Regions from separate parts of the Homo sapiens genome. Here region 1 is linked to region 2. The links come from fine-mapping of genetic effects on gene expression. A gene starts in region 2. The other region holds a variant in brackets. All regions are shown on one strand. Distances are between the middles of the regions.

Evidence for each region. PIP is the estimated chance that this variant, and not a neighbour inherited with it, causes the effect.
Region 1: its variant is the best candidate, but not a certain one, in a credible set for the expression of ATP11C in whole blood (TOPMed, PIP 0.57).

What each region holds. Positions count from the first base shown.
Region 1 is chrX:139,841,300-139,846,674 of GRCh38, reverse strand. All of the region lies in intron 1 of ATP11C (ATPase phospholipid transporting 11C (ATP11C blood group)), which reads left to right. Among named protein-coding and RNA genes, the nearest start is that of MIR505, 80 kb to the left of the region's middle. The variant CTTA/A (reference allele first, on the strand shown) is at 2,219.
Region 2 is chrX:139,930,080-139,935,454 of GRCh38, reverse strand. ATP11C (ATPase phospholipid transporting 11C (ATP11C blood group)) reads left to right here and starts at 2,402. Exons shown (of 30, transcript NM_001353812.2): 1 at 2,402-3,439. The coding sequence starts at 3,413. RefSeq lists enhancers at 1,716-1,765, 1,806-2,155 and silencers at 2,936-3,175, 3,216-3,375.

The DNA of each region.
Region 1 (5,375 bases), 89 kb after region 2:
TGATTATGTTTCTTTTAAATTTTAAATGTATTCCTAGGAGTGAACGAAAGCGTTTCTTCATAGTGTTTTATGGTCACCATTAGAGCCCAAATCCTGCTTTCCCTATAGCAACTGGGTGGTTGTGTTTTTATTAATCTATTAATTTATTTTAAAAAAGAAAAAATAGCAGCAAAAGTAAAGTAAACCTTAGGAGTTACACAATGGATTGCATACTTAATGCTATGGACAATTGCTAACCCAACCTTACTTTAACATTTACAAAGCCAGTTTTGATTAGCTCTTTATTCCTAGTTATCAGATATACTCCATTTCTCTAAATTAAGTCCAGAGGTGGTCCTTACTGAGATTTATAGCCACTGATACCACAAAGTCTTATAATTTAGCTGTTTAAGAATTCTTTTGGGTAAAAATAATTTAGGAAGGAAATCTAGTGTTCACCAGGTTGGAAACAACTGGACATTAGTAAAATTGAAGCTCCTTAGCAAAGCTTATTCCGGTTTGTTATATAACATACCGATTAATAGCCAGAGGTTACCTGGATTCATACAAGAGGCACTGTTTCTCAAGGTCAAGCATTGCATGGCCCTTTATTGCAACTTTTCTTTTAAATATGAACGTATAAGTCAGACTTATTTTTGGATGATCATAGTGAAACCCGAAGATCCATAATGAAGTTTATGTGACAGAGATCCCCACACAACAATCTGAGCGATCTCTATAGTGGTGTACAACTTCCCTGTTGCTTTGGCAGTTTCTTAAACGTAATTATTCCCAAAGCAAATCTATTCAAGCATATTTAAAAAGAATGGGACAGTATTTGGCAAGCATAAGCGTGTTTTAAAAGTGATTCCAAAGATTTAAAGGTTTTAGCTGTAAGAATGATGGATAATGAGAATTGCAGAAAATTAGCGAGAGTTCTTTTGCCAAGAACAGTAGTTTGGGAAAGCTTTGGGCTTTAAATAGAGGGAATTATGAATAAAGACAGTAGTTGATAAAGATGAATACAGTAAAAATTAAAGTGTTGTTGCCTTTAAGAGTATTTTATGTATAAACTTGATTGATGTAAACTTAATTGTTCAATGTTTAAAAGCTCTAATTAATGTAGTTTATACTTAGTATGAAGCACATCAAGGTCTCCATTTCCTCTACTCACTGGAATAATTGAACTATATATTCAGACTTCTCTCACTGCTTCACTCCCTACATATATTCCCCTTTACTTTTCTCTCAAAAATCCCTGACTTCTCCTGATAAAAATAAATTGCTTTAAACATTTATTGTTAATAAATGCATTAATGAAAAAGCAGAAACATTTGTGGTGGTTTCTCTAGTTTTTTAAAGCAAATCTCTGTAGGGGTTCCTAATTTAGTTCTGTTCCACGTTGCCCTCTGGTCACTAAATCAAACACAGAGCCACTGCTGCTTAGGGAGCTGGCATTCTAGTAAGGCAAGCTAGTGCTAGGGCACTAGCTGGAAGCCTGTTTTGAGCTGACTGGAGGCTATGAACCCCCTAAAGAAAGAGACAGGGTCCCTTGGGCCTGAGGCTTATCGGTGATGGGAGGAAATGTTGGGTCCAGCCCCTGGGGAGGTGAGGTGCACTAGAGAAACTGAGAGGCAAACAAGTGTGTCCACCAGGACCTAATGTTGCTCACAACCCCTTAACCACTTAATCATCTGTCATTCTTTTAAGTAAATACCTGCTTATGCTCATTTTATCGTTTTGAACATTCCATCTTCAGGGTGCTAACTTGACAAATTTTTGGTAAATCTGTGCAATATTAGATAACCACAGGAACCTTTTTATTCAACTCCCACACTTTATGAATGGGAAAACAGACTCAGAGAGGGGGAACTGAGATAGAGTTGGCTTTCTGGTAAGATAAGCTTCCTAATTTAGCATGGGGATTATGCTTATCACTGTGTCTAGCTCATTCCATGTTCTTTAAATATTTGTTTCAATAAAATGGGATAGGCCTTTGGATTAGGGGATCTCACAAATACACAGGCCCCTACACACACACAGATTATTGATTTGATTTGGAAAGAATGATAGGAGAAGGTGAATGTCTGAGGCCAACCATTTGCAATTCTAAATCTGTGGCCCCCTTCTTGTTCAGAGCTGTTAGCTGCTCTGACCATCTTCTCCTCTTTAGTTAGGGTGCTACCAGGGCAGTATGGAAGGTTTCTTCCCACTGCTTGCCCTGCATATGTGCTTTCTT[CTTA/A]CTCGGCACCAGGCCTTTCCTGCATTGCAGGTATTGCAGGGCCACGTGGTATGACACAGTTGGGTGAATTTGATTACACATGCTGTTTATTTTTGCTTCCAGTCTAGTGCTTACCCAGAGCCCTCCACTCTCTGCTACTCCTTGCATTCAACCCTAAACTGAGTCATTTATCATAACCTTTGCTGAACCTTTTGAAGCTGATTTTTCTTTCCTTTTTGCAAGCATTTTGTTTTATTGAAGTCTTGAATGAAGTCACAATGTACTATTCTGTCTTTTGTTCATATGCTAATTAAGAAGTGTTATCTAGTTAGCGTGGCATAGTTCATTTACAAAACTATTCATGGTCATTTTGATTTTATAAGGTTTCTCTCTGTTTCTGTTTCGCAAAGACTGTATATATGTTTTTTAGTTAAACAAAGTTAATGTTAATTTCTTTCATTTGTGCTCCCTGAGTTTCAAGTGTAATAACCCTGCAGATATATTTCACCTATTTGTATTAGAATTATATTTTTTTCCATGGACATCAGTTTTTTTTTTTTTTCTTTGTCAGAAGCAACTAGTTATTGGCAGCAAAGGAATTTATTATTCCATTGTGCTATATAACACAACTAACAATTTTTTTTCAGTATTTACAATATGAAGGCACTGTTTCATAATTGCTTTATAAGTTGTCATCAACATAATCACCCCCTTTGAGACTGGTGGGAAAACTGAGACATCACATGGTTAAGGAGCTTGCCCCAGGTTACATAACTAATAAGTGGCAGAACCAATATTTGAACCCAGATATCTGGCTGTAGAACTGATACACATAGCCAGTATGCTTCTGTTCTTCATCATCCCTTGTACAGGCTCTTTGAAACAACCTGGTAATTGCCATGCTCTATGAAAAAAGGCCATTAAAATTGCAAATATTGGAGTACCTCTGATTTTTGAGCATCAAAAATATACCCATCAGAAGATATTCATGAGACAGTTAAACATTGAGGCTCCAACCTTGTTTATACTATATTTTCATCTCTGGTCATACATAACTTGATGACCCTTGGTGATCTCAAATGACTCTAAATGATACTCTGATTTTGGGGCTAGGCCTGTTTAATCAAATGAGTGAGCCATATCTGTTTGTAATTCTTCCATCCATCCATCTTTCCATCTGTCCATCTATAGAATTCTTCATCTGCACGTAACAGACACTTAGGTGTTACTTATCCTTACTGCAGAAGAAGTCCTGTTGTATCCTAAGAGAATAAGACACAGCTTCAAGAATCACTGGCTGATCACCTTGAGGGGAAGCCAGTTTGTAAGGGTTCGCCAATTTTATGTATCTGCAGCCTTCCATATGTTACAGGGACTCTTAATTAAGCTGCTGAATTTGGCATTAGTTGAACTTTCAGTTTACTTTCAAGGAGAGTCATGCAGACAATTCCAGTCCAAGAGAACAGCAGTTGGGAATAAACTGAGATACTTGGCGAGAAAATGAGGTGGGAGTTGAATTTGATGACAGCAGAGCATTCTTGCTGGAGACTACTAGTGGAAAATGAAGTTAGAATGGCAAGGGAAAGTAAGGTTTGTTAGAGTAGCTCTGAAACCAAGCACAGTATACAACTGAAAATAAAATTCTCTTGTCATTGTATGCAGACTCTAGCTTTGGAGCCTGGCACGTGTGAATTATACAAAGATTTTCAAACTAATTTGATCGTATTCTAGATCACAAGAGGCCAAAATTACCCAACGCTCAGACACATTAATCTCTTGGAAATTTAAGACAAACTCTACGCAGCCCCAGTCAGCCTCTACATTTCAGCAACTCTTATTCCTTTCTTCTGTATTTACTTAGCAGTGCGCTGCAAATATACTTGTATACTTCCTTCACTTATGTCCTACTTGTGTTTCCTGTCAACTCTATGAGATTGTAAACTTGCCTATTGCAGGAATTGATACAGCCCTAGCTCAGAGGTCAGTGAGAGGTAGAATGCAAGCAAAAGGAGAGAAGTGATTGGGCTTCGCCTCAGCCTGTACCTACTACCCAGCTGATACTTTTCACAATGGCAAAAGGTGAAAGAGTGGAAGAAAAGGGGGAGAGTTACTCTATGGCACATGGCAGGAGGAAGATTGGTACCCTTGGAGGGCATGTATGGAATTTAAAACCTGCTCACTTTGGGAGGCTGAGGTGGGCAGATCATGAGGTCAGGAGATCGAGACCATCCTGGCTAACACGGTGAAACCCTGCCTCTACTAAAAATACAAACAAATTAGGTGCGTGTGGTGGCGGGTGCCTGTAGTCCCAGCTACTTGGGAGGCTGAGGCAGGAGAATGGCGTGAGCCTGGAAGGCGGAGCTTGCAGTGAGCCGAGATTGCACCACTGCACTCCAGCCTGGGCGACAGAAGGAGACTGTCTCAAAAAAGCAAAACAAAACAAAACAAAAAAACCTGCTCATGCATTCTGGGCAGGGCAATGCAAGGCAAGATAAGTGGAGCCTTGGATAGCAATGGGCCTGTCTTTGAGTTATAACCTGATAAGGTCCTAGTCCCAGGAAAATAGCTAGGGGAACGAGGAAGAAATAACTTTCCTTAGGGAAATCACTTAAAAAAATCACCTTACTAGGTTCCATTGTTTCTGAGCTCCAGAGCAAGATGGAGTGTGTATATATGTGTATGTATGTATAATGTTTTAAAAACTTTATTGTTTATTGCCTTTTCCATCCCAAGGTACCAGAAAATTTCATAAGTGGCAATTTTTGTGATTGAAATATACCACTTAGGTGTTCTAGTTGTTCTTCTACACAAGATTCACTGTAGTCTCAGCATGGGGATGGCAAAAGCTGATAGGAGAAAATTTTCTCTCTTGTCTTTTGAACATCAATGAAAGGAGAGTTTTCCTTACCTCTCTGCAGCTCTTGAATGTTGAATTTTAATATTCTCATTTGGAGTTTCATTTGAACAAATAGCTTTCTTCTCCAAGCCCTTGTACCACCAATCATTTCAACCTGCAGTTCTCCTTCTCTACTCCACCTCACCCTTTGTAGAAACAATTCTTTGGTCTTAGAAAGGTTTAGACACAGTTCATTAACTAGTATTTTGTATTTATAAAAATTCAAGTGTGTGGATGAAAACTACTGAAACAAGTCTTGTTGTCTAATTGTAGTAGAGT
Region 2 (5,375 bases):
AGCTGGGACTACAGGCATCCGCCACCACACCTGGATAATTTTTGTATTTTCAGTAGATACAGGGTTTCACCATGTTGCCCAGGCTGGTCTCGAACTCCTGACCTCAGGTGATCCACTCACCTTGGCCTCCCAAAGTGCTGGGATTACAGGTGTGAGCCACCGCGCCTGGCCCAATACTGCTATATCTTGAGGAATCTTAAAATTCCTGTGATTAGGCTGCAGTAACATGACAATGGGTATGTATGAGAGCATAATGCAAACAAAAAAAAATTTCAGGTCTCTAATATTTTTTAAAGTTGATCTGTTTGAATCTATAAGCAAAGTACATTTTTTCCACTTGTTTAACAGAATTGAATTTGGAACGATATTATTTACTATTCACTAGCAAGCACTTGTATCCCCAAATGTCTAAATTAGTTTATTATTTTATTGATAAGGATGTATTTTGGTAAGAATTCTAGACTTATACCTAGAACTAAAGACAATAACCTCCTCCACCTCCCAATTCCAGTATCTAGAATAATGTCTGCCACATAGCAGTCGTTCAACAAATAAACTAGTGAAGAAATTACAGTATTTGCTGTGTTCAATAAAAGTAAAGCTAGAGGCCGGGCATGGTGGCTCACGCCTGTAATCCTAGCACTTTGGGAGGCCGAGGCGGGTGGATCACCTGAGGTCAGGAGATCGAGACCTGGGCAAGATGGTGAAACCCCGTCTCTACTAAAAATACAAAAATTAGCCGGGTGTGGTGGCAGGCATCTGTAATCCCAGCTACTTGGGAGGCTGAGGCACGAGAATCACTTGAACCCAGGAGGCAGAGGCTGCAGTGAGCCAAGATCGCGCCACTGCACTCCAGCCTGGGTGACAGAGTGAGACTGTCTCAAAAAAAAAAAAAAAAAAAAGGTAAAGCTAGAAAGCTAGAAAATAACTCTATTTGAAAATCTTTAAAGCAGTAGAGAGCAAAACTTTAGATCTCTTTTGTCAATAAAATATCATAATATCTGATTAATATAAATATAAATTTAACATAAATCTTAAAAATCATTAGATACAGGCTCAACTGTGAGCAGAGAAGGAATCATAAGAGGGGAAGAATTGAAAACGGTTGGTTTTACTTCTTGGCAGTTAGGACAGTTTGGGAACAAACCTTAGGTCTCCTGCATTTGCATTTTATTGGGAGATGGGCTTCTCGTTGATCGCAGAATGAAGTTCAAACTTCGTAACATGTTTTTGAAGAGTTTTAGATTTTAGCTTTCGTTCGAGCCGCCCTTACCTACACGTCCTGGGCGTCTGCCACTACAGCGTGATCTCTTTCTTAGTTTGTCCTGCGCTTTTTCACCGACCTCTCCCTCTACCCTGGACTTTGTCCCCTTGGGCTCAGTCAGGTCCCTCTAAAGCCTTCCCACGTTTCAAGGGCTAGTTTAATCTCCAGGGCTTTTAGGAAAACTTCCCAAACCCCATTTTCAGATGCAATGTCGCTCTCCCCTATTTCTCTAGCACTTTGAACTCTAGCTATTATTAAATTCTAACGTGGCATTTTCGCTTGTTTGTATCCCCCAACCAGATTGCGACCACCCTGTTGGGGAGGTCTTTTAAGAAATCGCTGTGTCCAGCCCTGGCACAGTGCCTGGTACAAAGAAAATTCCCAGCAAAGGTTTGTTGAAATGAATCCGAACTCCGGAGGGTAAAGGAGAAGCGCCTATGCCTAGTAGTAAAGGCCTATTCGCGACCTTTGGGAAGGCCTGTGGTGTGGCTGGGCCCTGTCCCCAGCTCTAAACTGGCAGGAGAACGCGGCGAGGCGGAAGACTCGTGTAAGAGTCTCTGAACTCCCTTTCCTTCTTTTTGACTTTTATAGAAGAATCTGCAAGTTCTTCTCCAACAGCCTTGGGCCCCGCCTTAAGGGGCGGTGAAAAGGGGTGGGGTTGTGGTAGTTGGGAGGGATGCCCAGCCTCGTGGCAATTCTGGACTCGCTTTTCTTTTGTAATTTTTAAAGTTTCGCAAATTCCAGCTCTAAGCTGGGGGCCGAGGGTGTAGAGGGTTTCCTGATGCGCACATTTTGCGTTCCAGGGAAAGCTCCCAGGATTCGGAGCTTTGCCTAATTTAGCCTTCTCACATGTCCCACCGCTAGGAAGGCTACCGAGTGCGCCCGGCCTCCACACCCAGCCGGCCGGCGTGGAGAACCCGCTGTTCAGCCCGCGCTTCCTTCTTCAACCCTCTGGGCAAACCCGGGACTAGCGTGTGGGGGAGCTCCCAGCCCGCGGTACCAGGCGAAGTAGGGGGACGGTTGGACTACAACTCCCAGGCTGCCCCGGGAGCAAGGAGGGGGAGGGGGCGAGCGGGAGGGGCCTGGGTGGGGCGGGGTGGGGGTCAGGGAAATCCCGCCCCGCTGCGCAGCAGCAACGACACAAAGCCTGACTTTACAACCTCAGAGAAAGTGGAAGTAAGAAGGCTTAGGTGGGCAGGCAGGACGAGAGAAAGACTGAGAGGAGGGAAAGCCGCGTAGGTGGGAGTACAGCGGCGCGAGGGTCGAGGGGGAACCCTCGTCGGTGCAGATGAGGAGGGTGGGCTTTCAGAACTAGTCCCCCCTCGCACCCCGCCCCGCCCCTCCCGCGCTGGGGTCTTCACGGTGCCCTGCCTCAGAGCCCGGCTCCACCACGCCCGGAAGAGGGAGTCTGGCCGTCGGCTGGCTCAGGGCGGGCCGGTTGGCTGTACCCAGGCTCCCTGGCCCGAGTGCGGGACCAGAGCGCGGGGCGGCGCGGCAGCCGCGGACCGAGGAGGGGCTGCGAGCGAAACGGCGCGGCGCGGCACGGCGGACGAGTTAGGGCCGGGGCGAGGGAGGCTGTGGCTCCCGACAGAGACAGGGGAGTAGTGTCGGGCTGAGGCGAGGTGAGGCGCGGGGTGCCTCGGGAGGGTTCCCCGTGCCCCGAGGGGGGCGGCCGCGGAGTCCAGCGGGGAGGCGGGCGGTGGTGCCGCGTCGGGGAAGAGCGCATCCCGCGGGGTGCCGAGCCCGGCGCTGGCGGAGAGACGGGGGCGCCCCCTCCCCACAGGAGGAGCCTCGCGCTCCTCCGCCATCCTTCCCCCGCGCGGCGGGCTCGCCTTCTCAGTGGGTGCTGCGCGAGCTGCCGGCCCGGGGTGCCGGGGCCAGATAAGGGCGATCCGCGGGGCCGCCGCCCCCGGGTCAGGCAGGCCGGGGGCGGGCCGCGAGTGAGGCGGGGCGGCGGCTAGGCTGCGGGCGGCTGGGGGGCGGGGGAGCGCGGAGAGCCGAGGGGGGCAGGCGGCGAGCGGGTGGCCCGGCCGCCCGCCTCGCTGCTCCGCTTGGCGCCGCCGGCCCACGCCGCAGTGTGTTTTGTGGACGGCGCCTTCCCAGACAGCCCGGTAGAGCCCAGCTCAGCGCCCGGCAGCCTTCGACGCGATGTTCCGCCGGAGCTTGAATCGTTTTGTAAGTACACTCGCTGCGGCTCCGCGCGTGCCGGTTTGCTTGCTCGCCAGCCCCTTCGCCGGGTCCCTCACAACAATTTTCTGAGGGGGCAGTTACGTCTCTGGGAGACACCACCACCCCTCTTCTTCCTTTTCACCGAAACACGGTGCCCAGGCGGCCGGGGAGGGGAGGCAGGTAGGGCTCTCGGGGTATCCCACCCTCGCCCCCAGGACAATTCGACCAGGGCTTCCCGGAGCTGTTACAAACTCTGCCTGAAACTGGGGGCCGCCTTCGGGCTGGGTGGTGGGGGGGACTCGTGGGGGGACCGACCCGGGGACCCCTCAGTTTGCCAATTAGTCGAAGATGGCGTTTTATTCTCAGGGAGGTTGCTTTCTTTTGTTTCCTCTGCCACGAGCACATGGAGGTAAACCTAGACCTGTCACGGTGGCCCAAAAGAAGAGCTGGGGGCTGAGGGAGCCGGAGACTAGGGCAAGACTCAGCCTTGCCTAGGGCTCAGCCAGCGGGCGGCTTCTGACCGGAGGCCGGGCAAACTTTGGAGACCCAGCCTACAAAGCTCACCTTTAGGGTGTTTGAAAGGCGAGCGTGATTGTCAGGGTGGGCCGGGTGGATGTGCAGCCGCGAGGAGGCTGCGCCGCCACTGCCCGTGCTGCCGATCTCTGGTCTGAAGCCTCGCGGAGGACTGAGCACTCCAGACCTTGAACCCATGGGAGAAGGCGGACTGTGACTGGACTCCTCCGTCCACGTTTACCCCCTTCAGAATCCCCAGAAAAGGGAATTTCATTTTCATGGGAGTTAGCCATAGGGAAAATCGCTTTCTGGCTACTGACTTTTTTGAGTAACCTGTTTACTCCTAGAGGGTACATTAAGAATGGAGCGAAACAGGACCATTTACGTTCCGTGCTGCTATTTGTAGCAACTTCCTTAATTGCAAGAGGTGGTGGCGGGAATAGGATTTTATTTCTGCCAATGATGTGGAAGAAAGGGTTCATCTGCAAATTTTGATTTTTCTGTAGTTAGGAAAAAGGGTTGAAAGCTGAGTGCTTTCCTCTACCTGCCTTAAAATATATCTTTTGAGAACATGTCGATTTGGTTTTATTCATGCAATTATTCCTAATCAAAACGTTGCTAACATTTTTCATACATCGGATATATTTGCTCTCATTTTTCCTTCATTTGAAACTTTCACAAGTGTACACTGGCTAAAAGTAATACTTGCACATCCCTTTTTAGAATAGTGCTGTGTTAATGGTTTTCTAAATGTTGACCCCACCCAGGAACATGCAGTATGAAATTGGAACAGATTATTACCTGTGGCATAGAGCAGTAGAGGTTGTACATATCAATCATCTTGAAATCCGTAGGTGATGGCTTGTACTGATAGCTTTGCTGAAGCAAGTGACTAAAATTGGTTTCTCACATTTAGCCTGAGAATGCAAGCGGGTATTGTTCTTAATAGCTGTTTCACATAGATTCTTGTGATCTTGGAGTGTTGCGTGGGGGTGACAAAAAGGGAAAGGTGGCAATGAAAGCTAATTGTATTTAGGAAAAGGATAATCTTTTCACGTGGCACTCTTATGGTGGAAAACAACTGGGCTCTGAATCATAATAAAATCATTAAACTTAAGTTGTTGAAATCCTTTTTTTTTTTTTTTAAGGATTTGAACATTTGAAACCGAACAACTCAAGTATTGGTCTAAAAGCCCATTGCTTCCCTTTTGCGAAAAGTGATCTGCATCGTATCAGAGTCTAGTAATTAAGCAGTGCTGGCCCAGGAAGCCAGGGCATGCAGTAGAATTTGCAGCAGTTGTTGAGGTGCCAGCCTGCAGGTTTGAGGCTAGTACTTTGCATCCCCGACCAAGATCTCAGCAGAGAATCACTTTTGCTAATACTGAAATGAGCTTTGACCTTATTGTTGCAGCTGGAATATTCAGCTGTT